2 separate regions of the Homo sapiens genome follow, and region 2 is linked to region 1. A link means that fine-mapping ties the variant in region 1 to the expression of a gene that starts in the linked region. Tissue or cell type: thyroid. Region 1 holds a variant in brackets; the other region holds the start of a gene. All regions are shown on one strand. Distances are from middle to middle.

Region 1 (5,154 bases):
TGCTTTTATTACTTACAGACAAAGACTCGTTAGTATCAAGCCAAATACTTTGATAATTCTTTCTTCACCCTCTAGGTCAGGGTCTTTTCTCATTGCTGATGAGAAAGGTATCAACATCCTCCAGGTGACTTATGCAATAACTGAGCAAATTTTCCTGCAGTGTTACAAATGACGCTGTCTCCTATTTCTTATCTTACTCAACAAATACAGATAATTTTTTCTAAATTTCCTGTATGCTTTTATTTTTTTCATGTTTCTTAACACTTACTAGAGAGATTCAATTAAGAGTCAACTTCTAGCTTAACAAACTATTTTAAGTTGTCAAAATTTAATCAAATCCTTTAGGTATTATACATTTAATAATGGATACTTTTACTGTGTTACTATATTTTTATATAGTTGAAACATGATTTTCCTTTTGATGGTTTTCTATTTAATACCCTTGAAATATCCAATAAAATTAAACCACACTTAGAAGTGATAGAAAATTATTATTATTCTTTATTTTATTTTATTTTTAAGATAGAGTCTCTCACTCTGTCATCCAGGCTGGAGTACAGTGGCTCAATTTCGGCCCATTGCAACCTCAGCCTCCTGGGTTCAAGCAATTCTTGTGCCTCAGCCTCCCAAGTCACTGAGACTATAGGCACATGCCACCACACCTGGCTAATTTTTGTATTTTTAGTAGAGATGGGTTTGTGCCATTTTGGCCAGGCTGGTCTAGAACTCCTGGCCTCAAGTGATCCACCCATCTCAGCCTCCCAAAGTGCTGAGATTACAGGCACGAGCCACTGCAAAATATTTTTATTTAGGAGTCTTTTAAGACATTTAAATAGCTTTTGGCAAATTAAAAGGAGTTATAAGCATTAACTTTTATAAACATGTTAATGGCATGAACTTGCTATGCAGTGTCATTGCCTGACATTTTAATCCAGATTTTCCTCTCTTATTCCTTTTTTTTTTTTTAAGCTGAATAACACCGGTCACAGTTGGCAGTAGAATTGTACTTTCTTATAGATTAATATTTTACCTATGATGGCACTTATAGGTGGTAATTGTTGGTTATTAATTAATTCAATTAAAAAGCATTAATTACATAGAATTAATACACTTACAAATTTTGTTCTTGATGCCTTTATACTTGATCTTTTCTGTTTATATGGAATATGTTCATTTACTAATAATTCCAAGCATGTGCAGTTACATTTATAAGCAAATTGTTAATAGTCTAAAACAAATTTTAAGTGAAAATTTTGAAAGTGGAAAGACTTTGCCTTTCCCTTATTTTGGATATTTTCTTGTATTGTGTAAATTACTCTTTTAAAAAAGTTGATTTGATCTAAAGTATTTCAAGGAAGTAAAGTTTAAAAAAGAACAGAAAATATTTTATTAAATTGATTCCAGAGTAGTCACTAATAAAAGTGAAGAATCAGAATTTTTCTCATTTCTTTAGACCTTTATTTGAAAATAATTTTGGATATTGGAATGTATCCAGGAATTAGGAACCATTTTAATAGCCTATAAATTTTTTCTTAAGTTCTTGAAAACACATTTGTGATTTTGTTACGTATTATATACATCTGGAAAGGAAAGAAAAAATAGAGGTTTTTTAGGAGTAAAAAACCATACTTGAAAAGAAAATAACATGATTTTTAAATTTGTGATTTTTACAGTATGAAGAAACTGATTTGCTCTTTGCTGTTTGATCATTTATAAAATAAAAAATCTAAAACACTGTGATAACTCACATAAAGCACTTTTAAAAACTTCTTAGCAGATAGATGAGAATGAATAGATTGTGAATGCTACATAGGTCTTAATTGAGTCAGTACTTATTTGTGTATATATGTATAAATACTTATTTAATTACTTATTTATTGATTTTTGTATATAACTAGCACACTAATGGTCATATAGAGAAATCACAGTCCCAGACATCAAGGAAGCTTTTAATTGCATTTAACATATAGAACTCTTCTGCACAGCCCAGATAATGTAAGACTTACATGGTTCAATAACAAAATTTAATGGTAAAACACAAAGAGCTCTAAGGAAGGGAATGGAATAATCATGTCAGAGCAAATATATTAAGAAAAATCATACTGAAAAGGAGGTACAAGAGATCTTCTTGAAAGATGAACCACATGAAAGAATTGCAAGTGAGGATTGGAGACATCAGGAAAGCCTTAAATGACTGTGAGAAAGATGTGATTTTGGAACGACCAGCCCACTGGAGCCCAAGATGTGAAGGAAACTTTCCCAGAAGAGACTGAAGATGAGAGATCATGTGTTCCAGTGGGCGCAGCGGTAGAAGGGCTAGAGGATGTAAAGGAATGAAAAACTGAATCGTGTTATGCGGGTAGATAGTGCTGTGGGTCCGGGTGATGATGAATGACCTGGAGCTGGGGAGGGCTCATTTCTTGTGGTGAGTGGCAGGCATGTGAGGCATAATGGGTTTAGTTGGGTTGGTCTCTTGGGGGAAGGTAGGAAACCTCTGTAAGTAAAAATGCATGGTACCACTAGGATACTATTCTCTCCTGGTGTTCCTGAGATGGTGGTGGCAAGAGAGTGCAAAAATGCCAACTCGGGAATCGGCTCTCTTAGAAGCAAGAGGCTCTCTAAG[C/A]GGCAGAGCAGTGTTTCCCTGAACACAGGTCATGTCATCCGGAGCAAGGAATGAGTGCTGACTGTTTTATTTGGCAGCTCATGTTGTTTCTCCTAGAACAAAAGGTTTTCAGAAACCCTAAACCTAGGCACTCCGATTTTTAAAAAATCACCTCAGTTGGGTATTTGAGGAAATAAAAATTTTTTAAAGACTGGAGAGTGATAGAAGGGTCATTGTTGGATAACAGTGCCAAGATGCTTTGTGCTCTAGAAGCAGTTTTTTCTGTTTTGCCTGTAGACTGCTGTAACTGAGAATAAGGAGACAATGGTGTTACAGAAAGCTAGCCTTTTGTTGTGAAGAAAATAAAGTAAATGGCATGAGGTTAGTTTTTTTCATTATTTCATAAGAAATGGAAATAACCCAAGTATCATTTTGAAATTACACCAATTTACACACACCATTTAAAAATGCTAAGCAAAGTTGAATGTTCAAAGAGAGGTAATAGCAACAGAAAATTAATTCAAAGTTGGGGTGGTTCTTTTTACTTAATTCTGCGAGTAAAGTCTAAATTTTACAAAGATGTTGGGCTTATTAAAGTGCAGGACTATCCTTCTTTTTAAAATCACTTTAAGGAAGTCAAATACACAATACTATTGCACAAAATAAAACAGAATAGTAGGATTCCAGGAAGAACTAAAAGAGTTGTTTGAAATGTTATTCAGCCTTCTTCTAAAATACCCCTTGAAAAATCAATGCTGATAAAGATCAGTATTAAGTGGAGTGTAGTTTAATCCTGAGACCAGTGCACTTGCTAACGTGTTTTTCAAATTTTTGTAAATTTTGACAGAGGGCATTTTAAAAAATAGAAATACCTTATGCACATAAATTATTTGTACCTCTAATTTTAAAAAATCAATACTTTTGATCAAATAATATATTTGGTTGCTCAAATTCTGTTTGCTCCTTTTTTTTCTCACTGCATTTATTGTGTTGAGAAATAGAAGGAATATTGCAGAGGCTTCTTCCTCATGTCCTAAATCACTAGAGCACTAGAATTACCACCAAAGATCTGAATACTACCTTTACATTTTGCTTCTTGGATGAGACATTTCCCTTTCAATTTCCTATTACTGTACTGCTTCAACCTGCAATCCATCCCATATCCAGTTTAATGAATCAGTTTTGCCTGCCTTTTAAATCCTTTTCATCAAGTAATTTCTCGGTGAAATTTATTTTGAATGTCTTAAGATATCTGAAAAAATGCTATAACTGTGTGAGAGATTACATATCTTCTGAATCTGTGTACCCCATCATCACATGATTATTTGCTAGATGTACGATCTGTTTTTTCCATTCCTATCCTGGATAGGCATTTTTAAGCACAAACGTCACAGGCAGGTGCCCTTATTTTTCGCGTACTTGTTATTTCCAATGAAAACAAAGTGATAGCTTATTTTTATTAATCCTTAATGCACAGCATTGGTACCTGTGCGCTTACCACTATAAAGGAATAAGTGGAAAGAAATAGAAGGTGCTAACTAATAATCCAGTTGAGAAGATGTGAAATAAATGTGTTTGTGCGTTCAGCAAATATTTATTAAGCACTTACTATATGTGACTCTTGTCTTAGGTATAAAACACACAGATGAATAGAAACACTACAAATATATCAACCGCATATAATAAAATGAGCATAAATACAAGCAGGGGATGATGAAAGGTATAAAATTCCCAGTTTGCCAGCTCAAGTTATTAATGATGAAACTTTCATTTTTTGTTTTTAATGTGTGCTGTATAGCTTCCTTTTTTTCTGCTCTCTGATCTGAGGACTGTATAACCTGGCAAAGCTCTACAGCGCTGTAACTTTGAGTACACAAGCAATTTCTTAACTGCAATATGAGAAGAAACAGACCTGCCAATGGGTAAAAACATAGATGTCATTGACACTTCCTGTGTAACCCCATTAAACGTCTTCTCTGGGTGTCATATCTTTGAAGAGTTCCACTTGAATCAGGTCACAATCTCTATCCTGTAGGCTGTACCAGGTTAAGGAATTTGAACTTTTCATAAGAATAAATGGATTGCCACTCTGGAATCCATTAAGGACGTGAAGAGAGTCATCATAGTCTTATATATCTAGTACTAATTTGTGGAGTTTGTGATGAGAAGGCATTAGGAGAATGTTTCAGAAATGTATTCTAAGTGACATTTTTTCTTTCAAATCAACAAACAAAATAGAATTGAAACATTAATGTTTGGTAGCTGCTTCCTCAAGTAGAACAGCCCTGGCTATGCACCAGGTGCCATCTAGGTAGTTAATAAGTAGGAGCTTTAGTCTATGAGGTGCCACTAATGCTGAACTCATTGTCTCCACCAGCCCCCAAATCCCCTGGTCTTAATCCTGTGTCTGTCCTCTATCTGCAGATTGGAGAGTAATTGCCTCTAAGAATTTTGACCAACTGGGAAACAAAAACCCATTTGAGCCCTTTACGTCTTACCTCCCCATTAAAAAACAAAACAGAAACCTCCCTGCTTCCCCCAATGTTAAACAA
Region 2 (5,154 bases), 370 kb before region 1:
TGTTGATGTTAAAAGTTGTTTCCCTTTCCATCAAGGAACTGAATATTTCATAATTGTTTTAAAATATTGATACTAATGACTAAAAGTCATTGTCATGAGTCTCATGAGTTGTAATATATATTTATATGTTTATGTTCTAATAAAAGAGAAAACAGATGTGTATAGGTATGTTCACATCCTTACCTCTGGAGTTTAGAAATGATAGCAAAATTAATAGAGGCAGAATAAAGACACCTATCACATGAGAGGTGATAAGTTTAGAATTTTTTCATTTCTAAATATTAAAAAAATATGCTTTGCATTTGTCATTCATTGGTTTGGAGAACTTTTATCGCACTGGCTCATTAATATTTGAACAGTTCTCCATGAAAAATGACGAACGATTTACTTCATGGCAGGCTGTACAGATGGTCAATTTAATCTGCATCCTTGAGACTTCTCATGACTAAATTTTGACATCATGTCATTAAACATTTGTGTATTATTATTTATGTCATATTCTAGGAAACAAATATTGCTATGTCTTGCTATCTCTTGCCATCTATCAGTTTTATTGATAGGATTTATCTACCTAGACACTATACCTTTCACAAAGGAACACATATCAGGATATATACATCACTTTTGTCTCCTCAGAGACCCATACATTTTTGTCCTCAAGTGCAATAATGACATTGTTATGAACAAATGTGTGGCAGGTGTGGAGACAAATGTTTATATGACTTGGATTCTCTAACCTTGTTCAGAGATATCTTTGCTGATGATTGTGTGTGTTTGTGTATGTGCATGTGTGTGTGTGACTCCTAGGCCTTGTGTACGTTGAAATTGAAAGAAGGAAACCAAATGTTGGCTATTTTGAAACAGTACTGCAGAACATATCACCATAATTGTGTATTGTAAATGGCAGCAAATTGGAACCTAGAAATTGACCCCGTATAATGCTTGAATTTGTAGCTATGATGTTTACACTCTTGACAAGTTGAGTTATTATTATACCACCATGGGTAAATATAAAGGTCAGAATCTTAAAATTTCTTTTGACAATAAGCTATTAAGTATAGTGTCGGATGGCTTTTTGAAGGGCTAGGTAAATGACCTTGCACATTAACTTAATTCCTCAGACTCTCTGTCCTCTGTTATATAATGAATTCCCACTTGGTGAATTGATTGGCGCTTCCCACGAATGCGTAGAATGGCTGCTGTTAGCAGAGTATGTCCAGTTTGAAATACTTCCTGTGCCAGAGTTAGAGGATTTCAAGGTTTAGGGCACTAACAGTAGCTGAGAAATACAAGCAGAAAGGATGGGAAAATGATTCCTTGTGGAGTGGACATGGAAATTTTCCTGAAACGACAGAACCCAGGAAGCAATAGCAGGTCCCATTTCCTTCTGTGGTGTAACTGTCAAAAGAAGTGATCCTTCAGGGAACCATACATTAGTTAAGATCAGGCTTCCTTTTTATTCCTTATCAACCTATAATCTTTTGATTGTTGCCTGTTTTTCACGAGTGAAGAAATAGTAAGCCACACTAGCTTATCTCTCCTAATCACAGACTCACAGCGCTCGGGCTCTCTGAGCTTTTAATTCCTTCTTAGAGGCCTAACAGAGCGGAAAGTAAACAAAGACCAAATTTGCAACCTTCAACGTAGCTAATTTCCTCTGATGTCAGAATACTTAAACAGGCAGGACCTGGGAATTATTTGATCAAACCCGCTTTTAATCTAATGCATGCAGAGGGGCTGTGTCTGGAAGGCTTTGCAAAATGACAAGGGTCCCAAGGGAGCCTTATGGAAGGTTTCCTCTTTCAGAAAGAGTAGCTTCCTCATCTTAAACTCTAGGGTAGCTATGTTGGAGTAAATTCATAAAAAGTAGTTTTCCTGCTTTTAAAATTTTATTTTATTTGGCTGAAAATTGCTGATGGGATAGTAGTTTTCTTTGGCTTTCCGTTTGCTGAATTTTTAATGGTTAAATGCCTACTATTTTAGCTTTACTGTGAAATGAATTAATAATAAAATATATTATTATTAGCTAAAGGGAGAAGGAGAAAGGGGAAAGCATTATCCGACTTCACACACATTCTTCTATTACTACTGGTAGAAGAAAGTGAAAACACAAAGGACAAAAGATGCAAACACATGTGGTTCCTTATTTAGATTGCGACAGGCATTTTGCTACAGTAAGAGTTAAGAAAAATCGGTGTCAGGGAAATTTTAAATGAAGAATTTACTAATTCCAAGATATCCAGACAGCATTACTGACTCAGTTTGACTCACAACTATCTGAATACTTAGAAGTAGCATATTTTTGAGGGAAAGAAGTAGATGAAGGGACAGAACTCTATACCTGAAATATAATTTTAATTTTAAGGGTTTTTTTTTTGTACAATTGTATTTATGTAATTAGGTAGCATTGCAAATACTCATTAACACTAATTCAGTTTTAAAGGCTATTAAAAGACAATTTAATTTGTCACAGAGCATCAATATTGCTCATATTTTTATTGATAATAGATTAAGTTAAAAACAACATTTAAAGAAGGGTTTAAGTGCATTTTGACAAGTCAACATTTCTGCTCTCGTGTTTTCACACCTGATCTCAAATACTGCTCCCCACACAAAGTAATTCAGAAGCCATGGCTTAAAAATAGATAATAAACACTGATGCTTTGTGTAAATACGTACTAAGAATAGCATGCCACTAGATCTAGCATTTGACTCCTTGGATGACAGTGAATATCAATGCCTGTTATTTGTCATTCTGAAATCTGCCGGGTGATGATTCTTTTTATTGGTGCATCCTTCCAAACATATTTCATCGCACCATGTGCACCGGAGTTCTTTAGGCGGGTATGTCGGAGGTGGGTGTCGCCTGGCTGGCCCCTCTCCCCTTTGCTCGCCCCCTTTCTCGCCCTCGCGCTCTCGCCTCCCTCTGCCTCCAGCCCCCTCTGCTCCTTTGGGCTCACGCCCCCCTCCTCCCCCTCCAGCTGGCGGGGGCTGCGCTGCCTCCCAGACCTAGCAGACCTGCTCAGTCAGCTGGGGCCCCCTGAGGACAGTTGCCTCCGGAGCCGCCGGGACCTGCCATTCTGCGAGGAATGGCAGCGGCAGCAGCATCCCCGCCAGAGGCGGCGGCGGCGGCGGCAGCGGCCACGGCCACCACCGCGGACGCTATTGTTCCCTGGTGTTAGACGCGCTCTCCCTCCTTCTCATCTGAAGCGAACAATAGCAGGAAAGAGCTTTGCTTTCTGTACTCTTTGAAAAGACGTTCCAAGAGCGGAGAAAAATTCCCTGCCGAGCGTGCTACGGCTCTGGACCCTGGAGTGGCTGCAGGCGGCATGGGGCTGCAAGCCAGGCGCTGGGCGTCCGGGAGCCGGGGCGCTGCGGGGCCGCGCCGGGGCGTCCTGCAGCTGCTGCCGCTGCCGCTGCCGCTGCCGCTGCTCCTGCTGCTGCTGCTACGCCCGGGCGCCGGCAGGGCTGCGGCGCAGGGCGAGGCGGAGGCGCCCACCCTCTATCTGTGGAAGACTGGTAAGTGGGACGGAGTTACCCTTTCCCCATCTTCACATCTGGGGCCACATTAAGGAGCTGGTGGGCTTCTGTAGGGACCCCGGTGCTTTTGGATGGCTTGGTTATGCTGGTATCCTAAGGTAAAAAGTATGATTTCTTAGGAAGCAAATAGGTCATGTCCGATGCAATTAGGAAAGAAAAGCATAACAACTAAGAGGCAACAGTGAGTAGCTGGAATATTTCTCTCGCAGCTCTGTAATGAGGGCAACGCGCACTTCCATGATGAAGTGCATTATTTTTAACCCCTGGATTTTCATTCTACTAGGAGTTTCTCAAACAGATTTCTAGCAAAGAACAAGCAAAGAGTTTAGTCTCAGTCTTTATTCTTTAGGCAAAGCAATATGCTCACTGTCATGACATTTGTGGATATAGAGTTGAATTTGTTAACTTTAGCTTTGTGATATGTGGGACACCTCAGAAACAAGCCAAGTGAGGGCGGTTCCAACAATTAAAGGCAAATGGGGCTCCAGTGAGCCTTCAGGGAAAGACTGAAAACTCAATTATTAACTAGCGAGTCGGAGGATTTTTAAAGTGTACAACTTTTAGGATGTCTGGGTTCAAACTTTCTCTTCCTTCCTTGAGAATTGTTTTGCTTTGTTTTTCAACCACCCAACAAAAGCAGCTACTAACTGCCCATCATTACCCATTGGCAAAATGCTTGGAGTTTCTGGCGGGGGCCGTGACAGGCAGGAAAACAATACGGAGTGAGGAATTACCAACCCCTTTTCTGCGGGTTCGCTTTCTCTCTGCATTAAAAAAACATTGAGAATTCCTTAGGGGACCTGAAACTTCACATGTTCATAGGAATAAAATGGGAAAAGATTATTCCTGTTGCTTAGAGCTAGGGGGTAATTTAAGAATAACTTGGTCATGCCAAACATTAAGAGAATGTTGTAGTTGAAAGGGAAAGTATGTATTCGTCATGGGGTTGCAAACAGGTTTCAGGGAGTGAGTGTCTTTTCCTGCTTCAGCCCATCTCTGCACCACTACTGAAGAGACAGCTCAGTCTACTCTACAATTGCATCACTATCGATATCTGGAATTTTTAAAGAAGTTGCAGCTATCCAGAAATTTAGTGAGGAGATTAAACAGAAATTTATTTAAAGTCAAAGTACACAATTTGTCTTAGAAGATTACATGAAACATATACACATTTTAAAAAGCAAGATTATTCTTGCTAACACCTTAAGTTTGAAGATCAGTTGAGTAATGAATTCAAATGAAATAAAATTAATTTACTTCAATTTGAAACGAAGATTTGAAGATCTCTAATTTAGCGTAAGCTAGGGTTTTACTTGTTAAAAGCACATTCATAATGACAAACATTAATCAAATTATAATTTACCATTAAATGGTATCATATGGATGCTTGGGGAGAGCTTCTTAGGTAAGTCAGTGTAGGATGAAATAGTAGTTGCCTAGTTGAAATTTATACTAGCAAAGTAACAAGAGCCAAGCAATAATTCAGATGGAAAAGAGCCCAGCCAACATTCACTGTACAGCATCTGAGGTGTCAATATATGTCATCATAAATGTCATGGTAGGAACACAAGCCAATAAACAGTTTAAAATAGTGGGAAGCTCTCAGAAACAATG

Evidence for each region. PIP is the estimated chance that this variant, and not a neighbour inherited with it, causes the effect.
Region 2: THSD7A starts here. The variant in region 1 is fine-mapped to the expression of THSD7A in thyroid (GTEx, PIP above 0.99).

What each region holds. Positions count from the first base shown.
Region 1 is chr7:11,464,201-11,469,354 of GRCh38, reverse strand. All of the region lies in intron 9 of THSD7A (thrombospondin type 1 domain containing 7A), which reads left to right. Among named protein-coding and RNA genes, the nearest start is that of THSD7A, 370 kb to the left of the region's middle. The variant C/A (reference allele first, on the strand shown) is at 2,624.
Region 2 is chr7:11,830,122-11,835,275 of GRCh38, reverse strand. THSD7A (thrombospondin type 1 domain containing 7A) reads left to right here and starts at 3,078. Exons shown (of 28, transcript NM_015204.3): 1 at 3,078-3,519. The coding sequence starts at 3,330. RefSeq lists enhancers at 2,401-2,940, 2,941-3,481 and a silencer at 5,039-5,154.